Regions from separate parts of the Homo sapiens genome. Here region 1 is linked to region 2. The links come from fine-mapping of genetic effects on gene expression. A gene starts in region 2. The other region holds a variant in brackets. All regions are shown on one strand. Distances are between the middles of the regions.

Evidence for each region. PIP is the estimated chance that this variant, and not a neighbour inherited with it, causes the effect.
Region 1: its variant is the best candidate, but not a certain one, in a credible set for the expression of TASOR2 in whole blood (TOPMed, PIP 0.78).

Annotation. Positions count from the first base shown.
Region 1 is chr10:5,759,328-5,763,650 of GRCh38, reverse strand. TASOR2 (transcription activation suppressor family member 2) reads right to left here. Exons shown (of 22, transcript NM_001321783.2): 20 at 2,180-2,361; 21 at 1,005-1,119; 22 at 1-622. The coding sequence ends at 619. Among named protein-coding and RNA genes, the nearest start is that of GDI2, 52 kb to the left of the region's middle. The variant G/A (reference allele first, on the strand shown) is at 1,925.
Region 2 is chr10:5,682,437-5,686,834 of GRCh38, reverse strand. TASOR2 (transcription activation suppressor family member 2) reads right to left here and starts at 1,997. Exons shown (of 22, transcript NM_001321783.2): 1 at 1,660-1,997. RefSeq lists enhancers at 1,154-1,333, 1,954-2,063, 2,204-2,443 and silencers at 1,554-1,603, 1,644-1,903.

The DNA.
Region 1 (4,323 bases), 77 kb before region 2:
TTTGCTTGGTTTTGAGTGTTTACTGTAGAAATTTTCAATATCATAAATAAATGATTATTTCTTTCTCAGAAAGCTGATTTTTGTAGTGTAGTATTTACAAATACCGTAAGTGAAAAATGATAGTTTATAAATTTGTACCATTTAGGAAAAAATGTTTTATGTAGTGTTGTTTGTGTAACAGCAAATAAAACCATTTAAGATTATAGTTTTTACAAGGGTGGTAAAACCTTTAAAACAGAGCATAATGTGCATCGTATGCCTTTCTGACATTAGCATGCAAAAACAAAGCTATTTGTTAAAATAGACTTATTTTTGCTCCAACTAAGTAAACATGTAAAATTATTTTTAATAAGCTCAATAGCTTAGAAGGCATCTTGTTTAAAATGAAAATAATTTAAAACAATATCTAGCACTGCAACCCAAAGCTAACAGACAACTGCAATGCCACTGTGACATATTTCAGCAAAATATAAAAAATGAAAACTTTCCAAGTTGTAGAACATTGGTTTTTCAAATGTAAGACTGTTCACATGTGTATTCACATGTTCACAAGTTTTCCAAAGGGAAAATACTAATTTTTTATTGGCATCATCCATATCCAGGCAGGCTGTAGTTGAGTCACCTGAAGAAACACAAAATTGATAAAGAACTTCTTAAAATAATACGAACAAGAAATATTTTATAAGCGGGATGCTCTAATGGGGAAAACGCCTATGCATTCTAAGGTTACATTATGTTCTGTACTGACGATCCAAGTTAACAGCAAGTGAAAATGCACATTAGATAAAATAGGTAATTTTAGTAGATGGTTACTTCATTTAGTGATAATTTAGGAATTCCTATTTATGCCAAATAGCAATTCCACCCCTAAACAAACACTTTAAATTTATAGCATGAAGTATGTAAACAACAGTTTCCCAACTGTTTCCCTTAGACACAAATGTCAATATTTGCCATCAACAACTCCAACTCACATGGGAAAGTTACATAAAAAGTGTTCTTACCAATAGCTACTCCTAAATGGAGCTGCTATTTTTTCTATGTTTTCTATAAAGTTATTTACATCTGTAACAAGGATTCCACTATTTTCAAAGACTTCTCTGGGGATAGTAGGCTTGTCTGTTAAAAAAAAAAAAAAACAACTTTTGGTTAATATAATTAATGTACTTTTATATAACAGGACCTGGTTTTTTATTTTAAAAAATCTGTGGAACTTCCTCGTGTGAGGGGTAGGGGGAGAAAAGGTGTTGGGTTCCAAATTAAGAAAAGATTTGAAGCTTTGGAAATAGATGCCTCCATCGGGGGTGGTGGTTAAAGTACTGAAAAAAAATCCCTGAAAAATGATAACTATGGTTCTTTACGTAAATTTTTCTTAACACTTTTTTTTTTTTTTTTTTAAAGATAGATAGGGTCTTGTTCTGCCACCCAGGTTACAGTGCAGTGGTGTGATGACGGCTCACTGCAGCCTCGAGCAATCCTTCTGCCTTAACCCAAGTAGCTAGGACTATAGGCACACATCACCACACCTGCCAACTTCTGTAGAGATGAGGTCTCGCTAAGTTGCCCAGGCTGGCCTCAAATTCCTGGGCTCAGTGATCCACCTGCTTCAGCCTCCCAAAGTGCTGGCATTACAGGCGTGAGCCACTGTCCCTGGCTGCCCCACAAATTTTTTAAAAGCAACCTCTGCCTCCGGGGTTCAAGCCATTCTCCTGCCTCGGCCTCCCAAGTAGCTGGGACTACTGGCATGAACCACCACACCTGACTAATTTTTGTATTTTTAGTAGAGATGGGGTTTCACCATGTTGGCTAGGCTGGTCTCTAACTCCTGACCTCAAGTGATCCGCCCGCCTCGGCCTCCCAAAGTGCTGGGATTACAGGTGTGAGCCACTGCACCCAGCCCCAGTATTGATTTAAAAAATAATAC[G/A]GTATAACTACTTATACTGTATTGAGTATTATAAGTAATCTAGAACTGACTTACATACATAGGAGGATTGTGTAGTTACCTGCAAATACTACATTTTATATAAGGGCTTCAGCTTCAGCAGATTTGGGTGATTCTGGTATCCATGGGATGCCAAGCCATTTAGATACCTGATACTCTTCATCAGGTATCTAACTTTGACATTCCTAGAGCTGACCAATTTTGGCATTAACTGAGTAAAATGCGCCTGTGAATTACCTGTTAGGAGGACAGCAAACCTGGCATCAATATGCTGAATTTGCAGGTTTAGCAAACATTTCAGAATTTCTGCTTTTGTTGATGATCGAGAGTCACACTGGTGATAATGAAGCAATTCAATGATATTTGCACTCTGAAATGACTTCAACATTATGTTCTTCTTATGTGCAGTTGAATCCACTCTGTGAAAGATACATAGGCATATTAAAATATTTTTCAGTTTTATTCTTAGGACTTTTTCTTGCCTTCAGTTTAACCATTCAAACTCATGAGTTCCTCTGCCTTTCTTCTTGACGTTCTTTTTCATGACACACTTTGGTTACCTCAAAACATCACAATTGTACCTACTCCTTTTGTAAATGTGGATTTTAAACATGGGCCTCATTCTAAGAGGGACATCATGCATCTACCTACGACCAATCAAGCCATGTGGCTTGGCAAGCCTTTCATGAATTTCGAGTGGGCCTTATTGCGTTGTATATTTGTAGAGCAATGCACATCTATACTTCTCATACCTTGTGGGCAGATAATCGCCAACTTCATTAAAATTAGGTAGCAGCCAGAATTTTCTTGGTTTCTTGCTTCCCTGAAAATTCTATCACTACTAGGAAAATGTGTTAACTCAGTATGTTTAAATTTTTAGCATTTCTGTCTCTGCTCGACTCCCGTCTCTCTAGTTTTCATCACTTACATTCTCATGCTTGTTGGAGAAAACCCAAATCACACCCATTCCCATAACCCTAGTGATAATCACTCTTAACATCATGAATTAATTTCCTTTCACTTTTTCCTGTATAAATTTTTTATGACATCATACTGAACATAGTTACATGATACCAACTTTTATGCCATCCCTCTTTCTATGAATAGAAACTTTTTACATGCTTCTATTGTGTAAGTTTTGGGTGGGCATTATTTTGTATAAACTTTAAAATATTTAACTGTAGTCTGCATATCTCCCTCCTAGAGATGGAACTGAGGTTGGTTTTGCAATGACTGATAACCACCTAGAATTTTGGGTAAATTCCACAAAAGGTCAAAGGATATGAAGAGTTTTCTAATGAGTTCTCAATAATACATAACGCCTGTTACATAATGCCAGAGTGGTATAATATGAAGAGCATACTGCAGCGCCAACAGCAGTGAGTACGGGCATGTACCACATAATGATGTTTCAGTCAATGACGGACCACATATACAATGGTGGTCCCATAAAATTATACTACTGTAATTTACTGAACCTTTTTTGTGTTTAGACACACAGATACCACCATTGCATTAAATCTGCCTACAGTATTCAGTACAGTCACATGTACAGGTTTGCAATCTAGGAGTAGGCTCTACCATATCAGTTTGTGTAAGTACACTCTATGTCTGCACATAGACAAAATCGTCTTATGACGTTTCTCAGGCTGTATCCCCGTCGTTAAGTGACATGACTTTCTCTACCCAAAGCCCTAGAAGTGCTAGATTGATTTATGCTTATTTTATAGGTGTGCTGTGGTACATCAGAACCTTAAATGTGCTTCTCTACTTACCGAAGTTGACGTTTTTCCCCTCAAGTGCTGGTTACTGAAGTCCGCTGTGAATGGTCATACCCTTGACCTGCTGAAGCCTTTGCACCCTCCTTTCCTGCCAAGGAAACCTCTGTGCTCCTTCTCTCCTTTGCTAGCTCCACTTCAAGAGAAAAGCTTTCTGAGATTCTGTTCCTCAAAGGTCACATACAGCTAACAGTCGTTTCGTCTTTCTGGGATTGAAACCCAGCTTCATAACTTACTACTTGTTTGACCTTGGTCATGTTTGTTATCTACTCTGCTTCAGTTCTGCATTATAAAAGTGAGGATTTGCTATCTAGCTCCTGGGGATGAAGTCTGAATGAAAATGGATGCACCTAACAGTGCCTGAAATCCTTATTTCACAAGGGCTTGTCAGGTCTGCTTTTCCAATTGGTCCTGCTTGTGAGAATGTGGAGGAATCTCTCAGCCCCAGCTCTCTTCAGCCAAGGAATCAAACATGTATTTTTTTCTTTTATAAATTACAGCTTTAGACTTAGTGAAGTTTGCGTATTTATAAGCCTCTTCTTTTAGGGTACAACTGAATTAAGGATAGATTATGGTCTTAATTTTTCCATTCTCCTTAAAGTG
Region 2 (4,398 bases):
GGCGAAAGAAAAGAGAGCTCAGACTCAATAAAAACATCAGCAAATGATATGACCTGCCTAAAAAGATTTAACTTTTGTATTCACCAAGGAAGATAAAAATTAAAACAGAATGTTACTTTCAATTACTAGGTGGCTAAGATATTTTAAAAATACCATTATCATCCAGTGCTGGCTAGCATGGAGATAAAAACACATCTTTTGAGCGAGTGAACATAAAAAGGTACAATCATTTCAGGGCAATTTAGCAACATGGTTATCCAGCACTCTCATAAGGAGTCAATTCTACAGAAATACTATCATGACCACCTGAAGCACTGTTTATAACAGCAAGAGATAATCACTGCAGTATTGTCAGTTATAGGGATATCTTGAAAATAACTTGAATGTCTACCAACAGAAAAATGAAATTCACTTGATAAATACATGCCATATTGATCTATTTTTACTGAATAGATAGTATACTGTATTTAACAAACACCATGTCTCAGTCAAGTTCTTAGGCACTTCACCGATTTTAACCCATTTTAACAACTATGTTTGGACCACAGGAGATGCTTATAATCTCCCTTTAAAAAAATTAGTTACATTTGGGCAAATGTTCTGTATACACAAAACTTCAAATATACCGTCTTGGTCTTCCTTAACATAATTGTGGACCTTTTGTCACCCTTTTTCTGGCCTGGCTTAGTTATTTATTGATGTACAGTACAGGACATACCGCATACAGTCACCCATTCCTATAAGGCAGTTTTTCGACAGAAGGGTATTCTTGCACCGTTAGGGGACACTGCTTTGCTATAAACCTCCTAGGCAGGATTACCGCCAGGCTCACCCCTAGTTTTATTCAGGGAACACTGTAGACTCTAGGATCGCGAATGCCATTCCAATAATACCATACACTTGTACGCCACATATTTAAGTTTTGGATACACTTTCATAAACTTTTCTATTCTAATTGTACCTTACAGGGAGAATAAGGAAGAGTAAGCGTGGTTTGTTTAAAGTTACAGATTTCAAATAGACAAGAAGCGACTAAGAGAAACTTGAGAATTCCCAAAGTAATCTTCCTCAAAATTTCAGTCATCAACCCAGTTCTCCCACGAAACGCTGCTTGGCGCCGCCTTCAGACAAACTTCTGTGTTGCTCGCACCAAGTTATCCCAACGCGGCTTGCGCTTGCTGCTGAAATGACCCTCCCTTCGGAGAGACCTGTTTTACCCTAAAAAGAAAAGGTGGCGCATTGCCATGAAGTCTCGAGTAGCAGCAGGCTTCACGCAGAACCCGCAGGAAATGATTTCCCAGCCGGTGCAAACCCGAAGACGGAAACTTCAGCCAAGAACTTATCAGCATATCCCTGAGGACGCAGCTGTCCCCTGACAGGCGACGCAAACGAAACGCCTCAGAAAGGGGCAAGATGACACGGTTAGGATCTCCCTGCCGGCGACACCGAGCGCGGCCACAGGTTGTAGCGCAGGACAGAAGGTTGAGTCATCTAGAAGGCGCCGACCCCTCCCACCCCCTCACCCGGAGCGCGGCAAAAGGCAAGGAGAACGCGTCGACCCTCGCAGCCAAGCCCCGGCAGCTGCCCGAGCGCTCGGCCTCGGGGACCCGCCGTCCTCCTCGCAGGGTTCCCGGGCGCCCAGGCCGAGGAGGGACTTACCCGTCCTTGGCGTGGCCGCCGCCCCCGAGGACCTGAGATCCCGGCTCGGCCTCCTTCCCATGCTTCTCCCGGCCGTGCTCTGCGTCCTCCCGGGCCCTCGCGACACCGGCGCACGTGGGAAGCACCAGTCGCCGGCTCCGCGCTCCCGCGGGGACCCCCCTCAGGGGCACGCCGTCCGCCCCAGCCCCGGGGTCCTCGCCGCGGGCGCTGACAGGGACGCCGCGGCCGCCCGCGCTCTGTCTCCCGTCAGGGTCACGGGCAAGAGGCAACCCCGGGACGCCCGGCAGCCTGCGAGAACATGCCGACTTTCTCTCTGACCGGCGCTAGCAACCGGAAGCAAAACCTCGCGGCCAAAGGAAAAGAAAAGGGGAGGGGGGGGCAAAAAAAGAAAGTGAAAACTGAAGTGAGGCGTCTCCCTCAGAGATGGGAACCAATCGCCGGGAAGAAACCAAGGCGCAGGCGCGGACCGAGGTCAGCGTCCACGCGGCGCTCGCGTCTCCCCTCTGCGCAGGCGTAAGGCCACAGCTCGCTCCTGATTAGGCGGCCGATCCCAACGAGCGCGTGGTGTCTCGCGTTGCCGACCCTTGACAGGAGGCGGAAGATGCCCTTGGGAAGAGGCGGGAGACGCTCTCTCGGCTGACCTACAGTGCTGTGGCTGTGGCCCACGTGGTCGCCTTCGGGCGCCTTCTCCCTTCTCAGCGTTTCATTCCCCAGGTGCTGCTGCAAGAACAGTTTATTTGTCTGGCCCGAATGCGACATTTTGGAAATTTTGCCCTTGTTTTAATCCATATAGTAGGTGTGGCTGTTACCCCCTAGGAAAGCATCTCTAGAAATTTATAACACATGCACAGAGAGCTAAGGTGACCATCAATAAATTCAGGTTTACCCTTGCCCATGATAAATAGTCATGCAAACATCATTTAACTGTAGGGACACCTTATGAGAGAGATGCCTCATTAGGCAATTTGGTCCTTGAGTGAACATCACAGAAACCTAGAAGCATAACCTACTACATACTTACACCATAAGCCATAGCCCATTACTCCTGGCTACAAACCCATGCTATATGTTATTGTACTGAATACTGTGGACAATTATAACACAATGGTAAGTATTTGTATAAGCATATCTAGACATAGAAAAGGTACAATAAAAATACAGTATGAAAAATAATGGTACACCTGTGTAAGGCATTCTCACGAATGGACCTTGCAGTACTGGGAGTTGCTCTGGGTGAGTCTGTGAGTGAGCAATGAGAATGTGAAGGTCTGGGACATTACTGTACACTCTTGTAGACTTTATAAACACTGTACACCTAAGCTACACTGAATTTATTTTTTTAAATTTTTTCATAATTAACCTTAGCTTACTGTAACTTTTTAACTTTTTAAAACTTTTAAAAAACTTTTTAAGACTCTTTTGTAATAACACTTAGCTTAAAACAAACACATTGTACACAAATATTTTCTTTATATCCTTAATCTGTAAGTTTTTTTCTATTTAAAAATTTTTTTAATTTACTTTTTAAACTTTTTTGTTAAAAACTAAGACACAAACACACATTAACCTGGGCCTACACAGGGTCAGGATCATCAACATCATTGTCTTCACCTCCATTTTGTCCCACTGGGGGGCTGGGATTACGGTGGAGCCACTGCGCCTGGCCATGTGTGCTGTACTTTTATATGACTGGCAGTGCAGTAGATTCATTTACACCAGCATCACCACAAACATATGAGTAATGTGTTGCTGTACGAAATTAAGATGGCTACGACATCACTAGGCAATAGAACTCTTCAGCTCTATTATAATCATATAAGATCACTGTTGGATATGTGGTCTGTTGTTAACTGAAACATTAAGTGACATATGACTGTACCAATGAGAGAGATTAAGTGCTAATGAACATGTATCATGAGTCAAGCACTGTGCTGGTAATACCAAGAGATTCAGTCATTGTGTTTACTGTTTACTGTAACCAGGTGCTGTAATAGACACTGGTTTTACAATCATGAACAAGCTAGATAAGGACCCTGCCTATAATGGAATTTATTCCAGAGGTGAGTGACAAACACAGGTAAATCACCACGACAAGAAAATAGAATCTCAGATAACAATACATGCTGTGAAAACTCACTGGAAATGCTAGTGGATGGGACTGGGGGCTGGAGGCCAAGGGCAGAAGTAGTGGAGCTACAAGATCTTACTGAAATGGGCACATCTGAGGTCAAACCCTAAAGATCAAAACTGATAGAACCAAAGCTTGGAATACGTGGAGGAAGAGCTTTCCAGGCAGAAGGGAAAGCAAGTGCAAAGGACTTGAGAAGTGAAATGAAACCTATTCAAGAACAGAAGAAGGCTGACTGTGGAAGTAGAGAGTGAAGTACAACAACATTTTAATAGTGCACAAAACCGGAATGTACAACTCCATGATTTATCACAAGGCAAATATTCATGAAACCAACACCCCCATCAAGAAATAGAACATTGCCAGTACCCCATCCCTCTTCCCTAGCCTAAGCACTATTCTGACTTCCATGGTACTCTCTTCTTTGCTTTTAAAAGTAAGTTTGCCAACTAAATATGCACCCTGAAACTTTATCATTTAGTTTGCTTGTGGTTTGAACTGTATATAAAGTGAATAATTTTGTGCCTGCTTGTGAGACTCACTGTGTTTTTGGGTGTACTTGTTCTTTCGTTTTCATTGCTGTATATGTAGGCGTGAATGTAACACATTTG